2 linked regions of the Homo sapiens genome follow. The protein of the gene in region 1 interacts with the protein of each later gene in a pairwise test. Each region holds a gene or a part of one and is shown on either strand. Other genes may lie near its edges. The genes, in order: ASTE1 and XRCC4.

Region 1 (8,053 bases):
GTTGTGCCTATGATTAGTGTCTATACACTTTTTTTGCAGTTGTGAATTTTTTTCCTTTTTTTTTCAGCCACGTAACCCATTCTATTGATAGCTAGTATTAACCTGGTAGTAATAACAATATAGTAGTAATAACTGTGACGATAACACAGACTACTGAAGTACAGTGGAAATGGTAGATTTAGAGCTAAAAGAGCTAGGTTTGAGTCCTAGCACTGACACTTTCTGGCTAAGACATTACCTAGTTCACTCAAGTTCTAGATTTCTTAGCTACGACATGAGGGCAAGATAGCACTCAACCTCATCAGTTTGTTATAGTAAGTGAACTAATATAGAAGACAGCACTTTGTATCCTGTAAAGTACTTTACAAAAATTTCATTAGTATTACAAATACTTACCTCAGTCAATCTGCTTAAGTCAGAATGATCCTTGGCCAGTTCTACTGCATCAATGATTGAGGTTCTGATATTTTTATTAATCCTTTCCACTTCACTGAAAGCTAGAGGCTGAGGAGGCAATGCATTCCAGGATGTCTTGTCCAGATGTGGTGAGGCATTTAAAAGAAGCCCATAGATGATTTGCCTGATGGGCTGAGATATTCTGTGGGCATTTGGTTGCTGCATGTTTTCCACCTGTGTGGGAAGAATGGTCCGTCTTAGGACCAAAGCATCACTGATGAAAGGAGATAGCTGGCCTTTAGCTAAAGCCACTAATACCCATTCTGGTAAACCAAGATTCAAGGCATCTGGACAGACATAAGTACCACACTGGAAGAAGTCCTGTAGCTTCACCTGGGACTGTTGGTATTCTTCCATGGAACAGCAGAGAAGTTCCTTAACATTTTCTCGATCCTTTTTTGGGAGGTATTTCAGAACATTATCTAGTGCTTCGGTAGGGTTGGCAAAATGAGACAACCAATTCAGAAGTCCCAGGATTCGGTGGTGTCTCCTCCCTTTAGAACTGGTAGCTCCAAGAGGAAGACGCGCTTTACTTAAGAATGTCTCCATGATGGGTAGATTAACATGGTCATTTCCACATAGCACCGCAAAGAGAGGTAGTAGAGCTTTATTCATATTGCTGAAGTGATGGCAGAATGCATCAAGGGAAAAGCATTTGGCAGGGATATAGTTTTGTGTGCCCTTAATAGTGTTCATATTTCTCCACTGAAAGCTATTCAATGGGCAAAACCCAGTTTTCAGGTCAAAAATGCAAAAGTCACTATCTGATGATAACACAGGGCAATTCCAATGGTTAGCAAGTGTCATAATGTCCCGATCTGCTTCTGAAAAGCACTGGACAAAACACACCCGCAGCTTGATCAAAACCTGTATGAATACTTCCCGGATGAGTAAGGGACATACGTACCCACTCCCACCAACAGAAAGGGAATGGGCCATCTGGATCTTCTCTCTAGCTCTATCCTTTAAAGTTGTAAGCTTTTTATCTGAAATGTCACATCCTCCATCTAATACAACATATGGGCATATATTACAAGCAAACAGTGATTCAAAGAATTTTTGTACAACATCTGCAAAAGAATCATAGTCCCCTCCATACCGGAGATCCAAGTTTGAACTGAAGCAAAGACGGTGGAAAAGAGCATAACCATCAATGACAATTTTTGTGTCCCGCAACTTCAAATCAGTGAAGAACTCATTACTATGATCTTCCACAAAACTCATTAGTCCTCGGATACCCATGATGACAGTCTAAAGAATTAATCGCCTGTTTAAAACAACAGAAAACATTTTCAATTGATGCTAGTTATGGGGCACCAAGTCATTGCTTCCAGCACCATTAAATCAATAGCAAATGTTATGAAGTGCTCTTTAGATAGAACATAGATATCAACATCATAAATTCTTACCTAGATCCTCAAGCAATGTTAGCTGTGCTTTTTCATTCTCCTTTGCTTTCTGATACAAGGCACAAATTCAATGGTTTCATGGGTTGTAATCTTTGGATGGTGACAGAGGCTGCTGCTAATTCTAAAGAAAAATCAGTTGAAGTCCATTACTGACACACCAGTATAGAAGTTCTGTGAACTTTGATTCTTAAGTGGTAATAGTCAACATCTTACAGCACAGAGTATTTGTTTTGTGGGGTCAAAGTAAAAAGTCCTAAGCTAAAAAAAAGATATCATATTCATCTCATAATCACAAAGCATTTGGGCTTCAGTAAAGTAAGGTGTGTAGGACCTATGATAAGGATCAAGTTTTTCTTTTGTATTGACAATCAGTCACGGAACTTCTTTCAGGCTTTGGATTTGTGGGCCCTTCTTAATTGGCATAGTTTTTGGTATAAGGAAAACTGCTTCATGCCTCTAGGAACCCCTCTATCCAGTTACACCCCTAACCACGAGCTCTTTTCATCATCTTATTTTGCATATCTGGCCCAGCTACGCTTCCTCACCTGGCTAACTTAACTCGCAGGATCAGAATTGATGGTTTTTCTTTTGACACCTCGGGCTTCAATATGGCACAGCACGGTACTGTTACTATTACTTAAAATCGTGACATTTTGTCAGTCATGGATTTTTTTTGCTATAATTTTGATTTTTAGAGATTGCATTAAAACTTACCTTGATTACTGAATTTTATTGGCATCCATTTACATTTTACACTTATCTCACCCTAGTTCCAGCCCTGTCAGTATCTCAGAACCTTATCCTGTATAGTACTTATTTCTTTGCAAGATAGTTTTGTAAAGCGTCCATAAGCAGAGACTGTGTCAAGGCGTCCTACGCAAATTACAGGACCTTGCACAGACAGTTGCATAGAGCTGCATAGGGGAAAGGCGGGCAAAAGGTCTGACCTAAGTCTTCAAACACAGGCCTTCATACACCGTGCCACCTCGGCCCTCACAACCCGCCGCCCGGACCTGCAGCAGAGCCCACCTACTCTGTCCTCCCAGAGGAGTAGCTCCTCCATCAGAAGCCCGCTAGAGCCCAGCGAGGACTGGCTCCTGCACGTGAGAGTCCAATCTCAAGAGCGGGAATCGGAAGTCTCCCGGTGTGACGTCTCTGGGAAGTACAGTTCCGTGATGCCGGTGGCGCCAGACTGAGCCAAGGAGCAGGTGTTCTCGGGCCCAGAGGCGCTAAGTAGCTAAAGAGGGCTGGGACGTACGTTCCGAAATGGCTGCTGTCAGGCTAGGAAAGCTTGGCCCGCCGGTCCTCCTCTGCTTTCTCCGCCTACTTGGGTCGGCGAACACTTCCGCCTTGGTGCCGCCTCGCCCCGACTTCCCAGTATGCCCCGCGCCGTCTCCCTGGCCACGGTTCCAAACAGCCGTGGCCCGCGGTGTCTGGCGCTCGGTGGGTGTGGTTGCCCCTAGTTTGAGGCCTGCCCGATTACCCGCAAGACTTGGGCAGCCCCGGGCGCCGCTCCGACCACGACAGGGAAAGGTAAAGCGAACTGTCCTCCTTGGGGCTAGCCAGGCTCCCCTGCGAGGGGGAAGGTAATGGTTTCAAGCTGCCCGGGCTGGGTTCCGAATCTCTAGGACGCCATGGCTGCGATCTCCTCGCTTTCCTGGACATCTTACCTCCGGATGTACTCCAGTCTCAGTGCCCCTCAATAAACGTTAACCTGCTTTGCCAAAATGTAAATGTTTAAAAAGGTGAAGAAGCAAGGAATTGTTCGTTTTACCTTAAGGTTAAGATTTACTTTAAAGGTAGATTTGTGCTGTAGCAGAAACTGGTGACAAATTGCCTTCCTCTTATTACCTGGGAAGATAACTACTGGTTTTCAACTTGTGATAAATACTCCTTCCGTTGTCTTTTGCCCCCAGCCAGATCTGTTTCACCGAGAACGGGTAGTTTGCACAAGGTAGTAACTTTCTCCAAGTTCCCATCTAGCTTTCTTAACTAACCTTTTTTCTCTCCTTTGGGCGGCAGTTGATCTGCTGGACACTTACTTGCCTTAACAAGGTTTGTTAAACACCTAGTATATGCCAGGAGGTATGCCAGGGATTGGGGATGCAGAAATAAAGAAGATGTGTTCGCAGTGCCCAAGTTCACTCAAACCTCGAGGGGGAGCGTGTTGTCAAGTGAACAGATAGTTCTAGAATCTAGACAATGCGACACATTCTTGGGTAGGTTTATGGTTGCGCAGAGGAGACTAATGGAATGGATGACCTAAAAGTGGACTGGGATGGGGGTGGCAGGGCTGAGTCTGTGAGGGTGGGCGGGAGGGAACCTAGTCCCAGAGTCTTCTGCAGCCTGGACCAGACTACTTAAGCACTGCTGGGTTTAGACTGTCCTTTAAAATAAGAGCCGCTAGAAGTGAACTTCTCATTCTGTCCGTCCCTAATTCTGTCCTTCTCTAAAAGGAACCTTAATCTCATCTTTAAAATAAGGAGAATTACTGAGTGACCTGAAGGACCCTTTTCAGCTGGAAAGTCTGTAAGTCCATATATTTATTTGAACAGCTTAGTATGGCCAGACGGCATCACTTTTATGACAGTGAAGGGGAAGTAAAAACAAAAGGTATATTTAGAGGCCTGCTCTGTAGTTGTTTTTCCAGCAGATTTTACTAACGTGTCTTTGGAAGGGAAAAGAAAAAGCTGGTAACTAATCTCACTGGTATTAGGTACAACTTAACTGATTCATACATTTTAAGAAGGAAAATGTTGTAAATGGGCATTTACTTATGTTCTGTTTTGAGGATTTTTGTGGTTAATTGCCCTAGTAGTTTTTGTGGTTGACGGACACCACCACGTAAAGCCCATTGACCATCCTTAAAAACTAGGTTTTTGTCTCATAGCTTTGGAATTGTTGAATATGAAAACCTAACTTCAAGGTGTAGGCAGTTTTCAATTTAAAATGTTATTTCTATATAGATTTAAAACAAAAGCACACTTTTCTTGATAACTAACAAAACATTTAACATTCTGATGAAATAAAAGTGATTTTACTTTGTACCTACTCATATGAAACAGTCCTGCCTTTCTTTTTTTTGTTTTTGTTTTTGTTTTTGTTTTTGTTGAGATGGAGTCTTACTCTGTCGCCCAGGCTGGAGTGCAGTGGCGAGATCTCACTGCAAGCTCCGCCTCCTGGGTTCACGCTATTCTCCTGCCTCAGCCTCCCGAGTAGCTGGGACTGCAGGCGCCCGCTACAATGCCCGGCTAATTTTTTTGTATTAGACGGGGTTTCACCGTGTTAGCCAGGATGGTCTCGATCTCCTGACCTCGTGATCCGCCCGCCTTGGCCTCCCAAAGTGCTGGTACTACAGGCGTGAGCCACTGCGCCCGGCCTAAACAGTCCTGCCTTTCATAACTGCCACGTCTCATAGCTCCCTGAGGAATTACAGATTTATCTGTAGCATTTATATTCCACTGACATTAAATGGGATTTTAGGTTTGAATTGAATTTGTAACTCTTCCTGTTTTTAATCCAGAGAGATTATACACAATGTGTACAATAGGAACTTCAGAAACTAGAATTTGCTGAGCATGGGAAAAAATTCTCAATCCTTATCCTTCTTTGCATCTGTCCTAATAAATACAAAAACTGTGGTTTAACATCTACAGAAAAAAATAAATCTAAAGGAAACAGCACCTGCTAATTCCTTGTTTAATCCTAACTCACTCTTTGTAAACCAAAGTAAATATAAGGTGAGAAGAGGGCATTACAAAAAGGTTGATGCAGATGTATAGATTTAAGGAGGTGATAATGTTCTTGTATTTGGATTCTTTTATAAGTAGTTGGGGAGTATAAATCTTAAATAAATGAAGAGATTGCTCATTGTAAAACAGATGTACATCCCAGAAATTTGTGGAAAGTTGGCTATAATTCACTTCTGCCAAATTTCAATGTACAAAGGGAGGCTCTTCCTGTGAAAGATTGCCTTCTGGAATTTGTGGTATCTCTACCTTTTAACATTTTTTTTCAAGTTGTTAACCAATATGGTGTCAGTCTGCTGATCAAGGTGCAGATATCACTGCACTTAACACTTTTTGTTAGACATCGTTTAGCAACCTTTAGACCTGATCTTTTAACTTTTCATCTTTAAGGAACTGACCAACACTGGATGAATTTGACCATTTCTTAGGAGACTGGAATGTTAAGTTTCTATAAATGAATGAACCAGTTCTCTCTTGTTTGGAGCAATGCTGAAATTCCAAGAGGCAGCTAAGTGTGTGAGTGGATCAACAGCCATTTCCACTTATCCAAAGACCTTGATTGCAAGAAGATACGTGCTTCAACAAAAACTTGGCAGTGGAAGTTTTGGAACTGTCTATCTGGTTTCAGACAAGAAAGCCAAACGAGGAGAGGAATTGTAAGTAAAAATGCTTCCTATGAATCTTGAGTAGGCTGCTTTTTGTTTGCAGGTCTTAGCTGATTAGGAACATGGAGCAGGCCAGGTATGGTGGCTCATGCCTGTAATCCCAGCACTGTGGGTGGCCAAGGTTGGCAGATCACTTGAGGCGAGGAGTTCAAGACCAGCCTGGCCAACATGGCAAAACCCTGTCTCTACTAAAAATACAAAAATTAGCCAGGCAGGGTGGTACATGCCTGTGATCTCAGCTACTTGGAGGTTGAGGCACAAGAATTGCTTAAACCCAGGAGGTGGAGGTTGCAGTGAGCCGAGATCATGCCACTGCCCTCCAGCCTGGGCAACAGAGCAAGACTGACAAAAAAAAAAAAAGAACATGGAGTAATGTCCACTTTGCTCTTTATACCAAAGCAAGTATTTCATAAATATAGGTAAGCTCCCTAATTAATCTTTCATATTAGGTTTAAAGGCATTTCAGCAGGTGAATAAAGTATCCAAATGACCTAAAGAAGGGAGCTAGAAATGGGATAGATTATGTGAAAATAAGATGTTTGGGCATGCCACAGTCTCAGTGACAATATTACTTCCACTTAACTTGATTGGAACTTCTTGAATGAGAAAATAAGAATTGTTCATAATGACTATTTTTAGAAATGTTACAAAATGCAAATAAACAATTATTCACATTTGAGATGAATAGGGTATACCAAAGAAAGTAACAGTATTAATTTTCTTTGGGCTTTCCATGGCGAGGATTTTCAAATTCCGTAGTCAGAAAGCTGTCAGATTAAACACTTAAACCAAATGGACACTCCTATTTAAAATTAGCTTATGTTAATGACCCCCTTGTCACCTCGTCTCTTTTGATTATGATCGGACCCTCTACACTTTCATAGTAGAGAAAAACTCTTAATAGCTTCAGACAGTACCTCCCTTACAGATAAACCTCTAGTTTTTGTGTAAAGTTTTTTTAATTTGCTGCAGTGGAAAGTAAGTTGGAACTGAAGTTAGGGTAAGAAACTTGCCTATCAGAAACACAGGAGGAACAGAAAGCAGAAGGAAGAATGATCCAAGATATCAGCCCTTAACCCCAGAAGACCACATTTTCATCCCATAATATATTGTTTTCTTCTAAGGTTTTAAGGCTACTCTAAGTTCTTCCAGCTTTTGCCTATTGGATATTTAAGAGTGGATTTAAAATCAGTGTGATAAACACTTTTCTACATCTTCATAGGTCATAGGAATTGTAAAGGTAAATGTTAGTGATGTTACTACTTTGTTTTAAAACTCAATCTTTTAAATGGTCTCTGTCCAGAATTTTTAAAAGCTGTAATTATCTAGAATTTATAGTTTTTAGTCAATTTCTACATGAGGGATGATAAAAGAGCTGGCATTTTTCTGATGTCCTTAGAACATGCATTATGATTCCTGCTGAAAAGGATTTTTTCTCTTTAATCCTAGAGGTGCTCTTCTAGCCATTTAGAATAGAATGATAAATTTCTGACAATTATTAGATAACCTTTATGGAAACATTGAGAGTAAGACCTAAACCAGACCCAGTACTTCTAAAAACTACACTGTAGGATCATATCCAATTTTGGTTTCTTCAACTAATGAGGAATATGAAAAATTTTAAGATAATTCACAGGAGGACTAAAAAGTTAATTAAAAGGATGTAAAATAAGATGTATGAAGATCAAACTTGAAACCTTTAGACTTAAGATAATAAGTGAGTGGAGAGAGTGTGTTTGTAGTCAGCGGGGAAGAGAGAGAGAAAGAGAATGAG
Region 2 (7,767 bases), on another chromosome or scaffold:
CAAAAGCAATATTAGCAACAGAATTATCTGAACTGCTACCTCCTCACCCACTCCTGACATAAAAAATTTGCTTTTCTTAATATTTTTGTGCAATTAATGGTATTGTTGCATAGTTGAAAGGGCACAGCATTTCGTGACAAATTGGTTCCGTTTAAATCTTAGCTCTGCTATTTATAAGCAGTGTGATGTTGGGCAAGACACTTGGCTCTCCGCATCTGTTTCTTCATATGAAAAATGTGGCCAATAATACGACTTTAATAAAACCTTGTATGTAAAATAAAACACCTGTCAGAGTAGGTGCTTAACGAAAACAGTAAGCCCTCACTTAACGTCATCCACAGGTCCTTGGAAAATGCAACTTTAAGCCAAAAGATATATAACAAAAAAAATTTACCATAGGCGAATTGATATAAACAAGAGTTAAGTTCCGATGGCATATTTCTAGTCACAAAAGCATCACCAAACTTCCAAATCAATATCAAAACCCTTCTAATATTCAACACTGAAGTAAATGTGAGTTATACATCCACTTAAGAAAGATTAATAAAAACAAGTAAGATAGCTGGCTATTTGCTATTTCAGTTCAGTGTTGACGGTGCCGGGAGCCATCCCAGTAGCCTGGAGTATAGGACATCATTCCAGTGCAGAGCACTCAAACTGGGAGAGTGTAGACACCTCAACAAACCCATTGTATATATCTCTGGGATGTAGAAGGGAACTGGAGTACCAAGAGAAAATCCATGCAGACATGGGAAGAACAGACATGAAGACAACGTGCAATTGGGAATGGAGTTTCTTCCTCATACACGTTATTGAGGATCTGCTGTATTTCTTTCCCATCCAATAAATCATCCAAGCTGGAGCTGTGCTTCATCACCCTTCATTAAGTATCTTCAAAACGATTTTCCTAGTTTTCCTTTCCTTTCAACCCAACTGCTCATCAGAGTTGAGACATTCAATCATTGTATACCTGAACTACAGCACTTGTTTTCAAGCTGGTCTCCCAGATTCTAATCTTCCTCCATTTAAATATACTCTATGTTGTTACCAGTTGGTTTTCTAAAATGCACACCTTTTATTTCCCTGCTCCAAAGCCTTTATCAAGTAAGCAATTAAACATCATCAAAATATAAAGTCTTTGGCATGGCACAAAGCTCTTCAAAATCTGGCCCCAATCTTTCTAGCCTCATCTATCACCAGTCCACTATACTTGACTTCTTTTTATTCCTGCCACATTAAGGCTCCATGCAACTATTGAACTTCATGCCTTTTGTTCCCATAACTGCCATTTCCTTTATCTACGGGATAGAGATTGCTGTCCCACCTCTAGCTAATGACTCCTTCCCTAATACTCTTTAAAGTACAGGTGAGAGAGAATTACTTCTTTCTTGGGGACATCTCTCAAGCAGTTCCCAGCCAGTACTACTCCTTCCACTGTGTTTAATGATTTTCTACATATCTTCTGCTATAAGAGGAGAGAAAATACTTCACATCTATTCTCTGGAGACTCAGTTTAATTATGAAATGTGGGCAATCATTCCTGCTTTGCAGAGTTTGTGAAAATCATTTAGTGCACCAAGAAAAAGACATGAAAATAAACTCCCTTAGAGTTAACCAAGTAAAGGTTCGGAACTGGAAATGATTCTAACTCTGTTTGGCTCAGTCTAAACCCATGCTCTCTCTACTACATGTGTTGTCTTGCTACAACATAGCAGACAACAGATGGAATTTACTTATTTAATAATTTCCCCCACTGGACTGTGAAATCCTTGAAGACACTGAGCATGTTTGTATCCCCAGACTCTTTTTTTTTTTTTGAGATGGAGTTTCGCTCTTGTTGTCCAGGCTGGAGTGCAATGGCACAATCTCGACACACCGCAACCTCCACCTCCTGGGTTCAAGTGATTCTCCTGCCTCAGCCTCCCAAGTAGCTGGGATTACAGGCATGTGCCACCACGCCCGGCTAATTTTTTATTTTTAGTAGAGATGGGGTTTCTCCACACTGGTCAGGCTGGTCTCCAACTCCCGACCTCAGTTGATCTACCCACCTTGGCCTCCCAAAGTGCTGAGATTACAGGCCCAGACTCTTAATGGAGTAATAACTCCAGCTGGCACTGTGACTGTAGAGATTAAAATACCTAGTCTTTAAGAATTCTGCCTAGAGAGGGAGAAATGCAGGCAACACCTTATTGCTGTTTTCTGTGAAAAGGGTTATGCTAGAGGGATACTGGAAGTATACATATGAACTAGGAATATCCCTATAGATACCTAAAGAGAGTAGAAGAAAATAGAAGGGGTTAAGGGAGGCTTTTTGGAAAGAGATGAGACATGAGAGAAATGTTGAAGGATGTTAGGTGTTGGGGGGAACAAGGCATTCTGAAATTCTTTAAAAGTATTAATTCACAAGTGCTACAATTACTGTTCATGCTGACAGTTGTAAATTATTACTGCTGATAAACATTTTATCCTTGAAATGCTTTTTAAAAAGATTCTTGGCTGGGGACGGTGGCTCACGCCTGTAATCCCAGCACTTTGGGAGGCTGAGGTGGGAGGATCACGAGGTCAAGAGATCGAGACCATCTTGGCCAACATGGTGAAACCTCGTCTCTACTAAAAATACAAAAATTAGCCAGGCGTGGTTGTGCACGCCTGTAGTCCCAGCTACTCGGGAGGCTGAGGCAGGAGAATTGCTTGAACCCAGGAAGCAGAGGTTGCAGTGAGCTGAGATTATGCCACTGCACTCCAGCCTGGGCAACAGAGGGAGACTCCATCTCAAAAAAAAAAAAAATCATTAAAATACAGTAATTCAGGTTTATTAAGTCATTACCATTGGGTTACCTCACAAATAAACTAAGTTTAGATGCGAACTCAAAGATACTGAGACACTAATCCATTTCTTAAGCTGCTAAGTTAGCCTTCTTGAAACCTCACTTCGTAGCTCTGCAAACAATGTACTTTTGACATCCCAAGCTCACAGGAATAAAAAACCACCTGCCAGTTGTTTCCGTTTTCCACCTATGTCTAATTTATGTACTTATATTTATAAGAAACAAATCACTAAGTCTTATTTCATCCTTAGTTATGTTGTGTTTCTATCGATAACAGCATGAAGATTTCGGGGACCTGGACATTAAAATAAGTTTGAGTACTGGCTTTACAATCTACTAGGTGTGATCCGAGGCAAGTCAGTCTCTTCATGTTTCACTTCTTTCACTTGTAAACATCTATTCAGAAGTTGCTGTGAACTTGATATTTCCATGCTTATAAACTGATTTTTTGAAAAGAGCCTGGTACATAGGACGTGATAATAAATGAAAGCATTTGCTACTTTTGGAAAAACAAGCATGACAAGATAGTTTATATACTGTTGATCTTAAGCACAGTATATGCATCTTATTTTTAGCTAGTCTGACAGTGAGATAATAAAAAGAGTTATCTTTGACTTGCACTACGAGTAGAAGAATTCAACTTCAGTTTCTAGAAAGATGTATAAGAATTAAGAGTGGCAGTCTTCCTAGTCTCAACTGCCATCTTCCCACCAGGTGGTAAATTCGTCCAGAGAAGAAAATGAATTATTGCTATATGGGATTCTGCAGCAACTTCTGTGAACATAGGCTCATAATTTTTCACCATGGAGACTCAAGCTTTTTGGAGTCATAGTTGTTTTTGGGTCTATTTGCAGGCATGCATCCTTTGTCCAGAAATATACATAACATTTGGCACATGGACCTGGAGGTAAAAGAGGAGGAAGGCCTGAGGCTAGACACCACTCCAATAAGTACATTAAGCTCCTAGAAGGGCAATCCACCTTTGCAGAGAACTCTTAACTATTAAAACCTATAGCTTGTAAAGCAGCATTTTCAAAGTTAAGAGAAGAAGGTGGAAGGGTCTTGAGAGGCTACTGACTAAACAGATGAAAATGAAGGTATGGAGTTTGGTGCCAAAAGAAACTCCCCCCAAAAATCAAACAATAACACCAGAGTAAAGCCCCTAGGGCGAGATAAGGAGTTGCAACAAAACAAGCGGAAACTCGAGAAGCGCTAATGCTTCAAAGGGTCAATGACCACACATAATCTACGTAGCCAACGTGTTAAAACACACCAACGCATTTTTTTTTCCTAAACAAAGTAGGAAAGCGGACTTTGCATGAGGGGCGGGCTGCCGACCCAGCAGTCTTCCTCGGACAGTCCGTCCTGATTCTCTCTGGTTGGCCGTGGAGGGACCACATGGCTCCAAGGCCTCTCAGCTCCGGGCCCACACACCCCGGGCTGCCGCACAAACTCCAGCCCTAGTCTAGATCCACAACCCCTTCTCGAAGATCAACCGCGACCTGGGAGCCCCACTTCTTACCATAGCGAGGCCGGCGATGCCGCAGCCACATCACCCTTCCGGGGCTCAGGCGGAAGAGGCTGCATGTCCCGTCTGCCCTTCTCGCCCTCTCCAGCCGTCCGGTTGGGCTTGTCACGGCACCGCCTACCAAGACGGGCGGTTAAGACACTAGGATAGGCTCCTCTCCACCGGAAAAGGCGGGATTTAGATCACGTCCCGCAGGCCGGCGGAAGTAGCTGATACTCTCATTGGTTGCAAAACCTTGATCTGTGAAAGCGGGCGTTTTGGAAGATACCGGAAGTAGAGTCACGGAGAGGTAGGATCCGGAAGTGGGGCTGCCTCTTTAAATAACAAAAATCTGAGGTTCTGTTCTTTTTATCTTTTTGCTTTCTTTTTAAAAAAGTTCCCTGCTACTTACCCCTAGAACTCCACAATGCGAGAATCCCCCTCAATTTGTGAGCTCCCGCGACTTCCTCTTGTGGGCTTTTGGGGATGCTAGGGTTCTCGGCATTATCCTCAGGGTGCGACCTGTTCACCCCCTTTTCAGTTTCTCCGTTTGCATCTGAGGGATTCTTGGGAATGCGAAGCACTTTTGAAATGCTCTGTGTTGGTTGTGGGATTGGGAGGACGGTTGAATCCAGAGGGTAGTGTTGAGTAGGCTGTTTGAGCATTTCCCCAGCACTGGCCTGTCCTTTCAATCCCCAGATATTGGTAAACTGTGGGTTCCAACCAGGCATCGAGGCTGAAACGTACTAGGCAATTTGAGGTCAGGAAAGAACTTTCTGTGGTAACCAATGGGAAGGAACTGCCGTTTGCGGACTGCAGCGATTGATTAGGTACTTTAAAGAGATCAACTGGCAAGACAAATGACAAGGCAACTTTTAATCAGTAGTAGTATTTAGCTTTTTCTGATTTTAATTATCCCATTAGGTGAGGTTCTACTACACACACACGTTTTTCTTTCTGCATTTTATCGATGGAGAAACAGGCGCTTTGACATGTTTGAATTTGCGTAGTTCTTGGAATTCTAATAAAGTATTAGAAATGAGAGTTTTTCACTCTTTGCCCCCTTATGGCAAGCTTTTGGTTCTAAATGTGTGGTGTATTTTTTCTCAGGCAGGAGAGAGTTCTTTTCAGAATGTTTTCAATTTTTTATGGACTTAGAAGGTGGATAGAGAGAAAGAGAGAAGGTAACTCACGTGAGATTTTGGTTTATGAACTGTATTCGGCCTATGAGACCCTTTTGTATTTAGGGCAACACAATGATTAGAAGATTTGGGATTCTGCTATTTGTGTTTACATTGTTCACTAGGGCACACAAAGGTTTTGTTTTAAACTATAACTAACTTGATATTTGAGTCTGTTATATTGAATTGTCAAGAGTTGGTCAAATACACAAATTAGCAAGTATTTACTGGGTGCCTGCTTTATTCATGGATCTTCAGATTGCAGCATAGGAACAAAGATGGTCTGTTCCTTTAAGGAATTTAATAAGGTTGGGGGAGAGGGGAATAAGAAAGGTATTTAAAAGATACAGTACTCTCCACCTAAGGATAAAAAAAGTCTTTTAATGTTCTGTCTTGTAATTCCTTTATATTATACCTTTTAGGTCTTGCCATTCAAATTAAACAAACCTGGTTTAGTTATGGAAATTATGTTGTGCAATTTATCGAGCTTGGCTTTTAGGGCAGTAAATGTGTCTGTAGACATAACTGCCCTTGGTTTCATGTGAAGATTGTCTTGATCTTTGTTACATATAAAGGTAATACTTCTGTATGAAGCTCTGCTTCAGGCTACCTGTGAAAAGCATCAGAAAGCTTAACTTGTTAGAGATCACAATTGATTTGCTATATCTATATATTTTAATTAATTTTAGGCTATGACTTCTTATGTACCTGAGCTTCAAAACAGTAAAGAACGGCATTGCCAGTTTTTAAGTTATCTATAGAGAAACACATATGCCAATAAATGAGGCTGAACAAATATGTATAATGTTTATTGCATTTATGTAAAACATCAAAGTTAATCTGACGTGGTGAGTTTTTTTTGGGAGGTGGTAGTTTAGCTCCATTGTCTTACATAAACCCCCTACTTTTTGGTTTTCAGATTATATCACAATTTCTAAAATCTTTCTGGCAGCTTTGCAGTGAATCCTCATTTAAAACCATCTTGGATCCTTTCCTTACTAGAAATAAAATCTGTCTGTGTTATTCCTTTGTTCAAAAATTATTATTTATTTTTATTTTTGAGACAGGATCTTGCTCTGTTGCCCAGGGTGGAGTGCAGTGGCACAATCATGACTCACTGCAGCCTCAACCTCCAGGGCAGAAGCGATCTATCCTCCTCCCTCAGTATCCCCAGTAACCGGGACCATGGTTGCATGCCACCATACTTGGCTAATTTTATTTTATTTTTTGTAGAGACAGGGCTCACTATGTTGCCTAGGCTGGTCTCAAACTCCTGGGCTCAAGTGATCCTCCCGCCTCGGCCTCCCAAAGTGCTGGGATTACAGGTGTAGGCCACCGCACCACGTCTGGCCTGTTCAAAAAGTATTATCTCACCTGCATCTGGAAGAATATTTCCAACTTTGGTTTCATGGGTATATTAAAATCGTATGTAAAAATAGTGGATATTTGTAGTTTTCTGTGGCGCCAGTGCACAGGTGTCCTCAGTGTTATGAGGATTACATGAGTTATTACAAGTAAATCATCTAGGCAAATGTTTGGCATACAGTAAGCACTCAGAAAGTGTTGGCTATTACTGTGCATGGCTTTGTCTTTGCTAAATTAAAAGTCCCTGGAGAGGAGGAATTATAATGGAGGAATGGTTGAATTGCATATATTAGGCACTAAATACAGTAGTCCCTCCTTATCTGAGGTTTTGATTTCTGCAGTTTCAGTTACCCATGATCAACCACAGTCTGAAAATATTAAGTAGAAAATTCCAGCCGGGTGCGGTGGCTCATGCCTGTAATTCCAGCACTTTGGGAGACCAAGGCGGGCAGATCACTTGAGGTCAGGAGTTTGAGACCAGCCTGGCCAACATGGTGAAACCCCATCTCTACTAATATACAAAAATTAGCCAGGCGTGGTGGCATGTGCCTGTAGTCCCAGCTAGTCAGGAGGCTGAGGCAGGAGAATCAATTGAACCCGGGAGGTGGAGGCTGCAGTGAGCCGAGATTGTGCCACTGTACTCCTGCGTGGGCAACAGAGCGAGACTCCATCTCAAAAAAAAAAAAAAAAATTCCAGAAATAATGCATACATTTTAAATAGCATGCCTTTCTGAGTTGTGATGAAATCTTATTCCATCCTATCCCATTCAGCCCGGGGCCATGAATCATCTCCTTGTTTAGCGTATCCCTGCTGTATAAGCTTCCTGCCTTTTAGTTGCTTGGTTATCAGATTGATGGAGGTGGTATCACAGTGCGTGTGTTCTAG

What was found.
Region 2: the proteins of ASTE1 (region 1) and XRCC4 interact in binary tests that used the Homo sapiens proteins (3 or more experiments, as listed by UniProt).

The regions. Positions count from the first base shown.
Region 1 is NC_000003.12:131,023,609-131,031,661, forward strand, and holds the start of ASTE1 (single-strand DNA endonuclease ASTE1), read right to left. Parts: upstream 3,218-8,053; 5' UTR 2,899-3,217; exon of another isoform or gene 2,895-2,898; intron 1,987-2,894; 5' UTR 1,866-1,986; intron 1,724-1,865; 5' UTR 1,699-1,723; coding exon 397-1,698; intron 1-396. Other genes in the region: serine/threonine-protein kinase Nek11, read left to right, coding at 6,101-6,270. UniProt on the Homo sapiens protein: Structure-specific DNA endonuclease that specifically cleaves single-stranded DNA and 3' overhang DNA.
Region 2 is NC_000005.10:83,072,971-83,080,737, forward strand, and holds the start of XRCC4 (DNA repair protein XRCC4), read left to right. Parts: upstream 1-4,576; 5' UTR 4,577-4,645; exon of another isoform or gene 4,646-4,692; intron 4,693-7,767. Other genes in the region: TMEM167A (protein kish-A precursor), read right to left, coding at 4,351-4,353.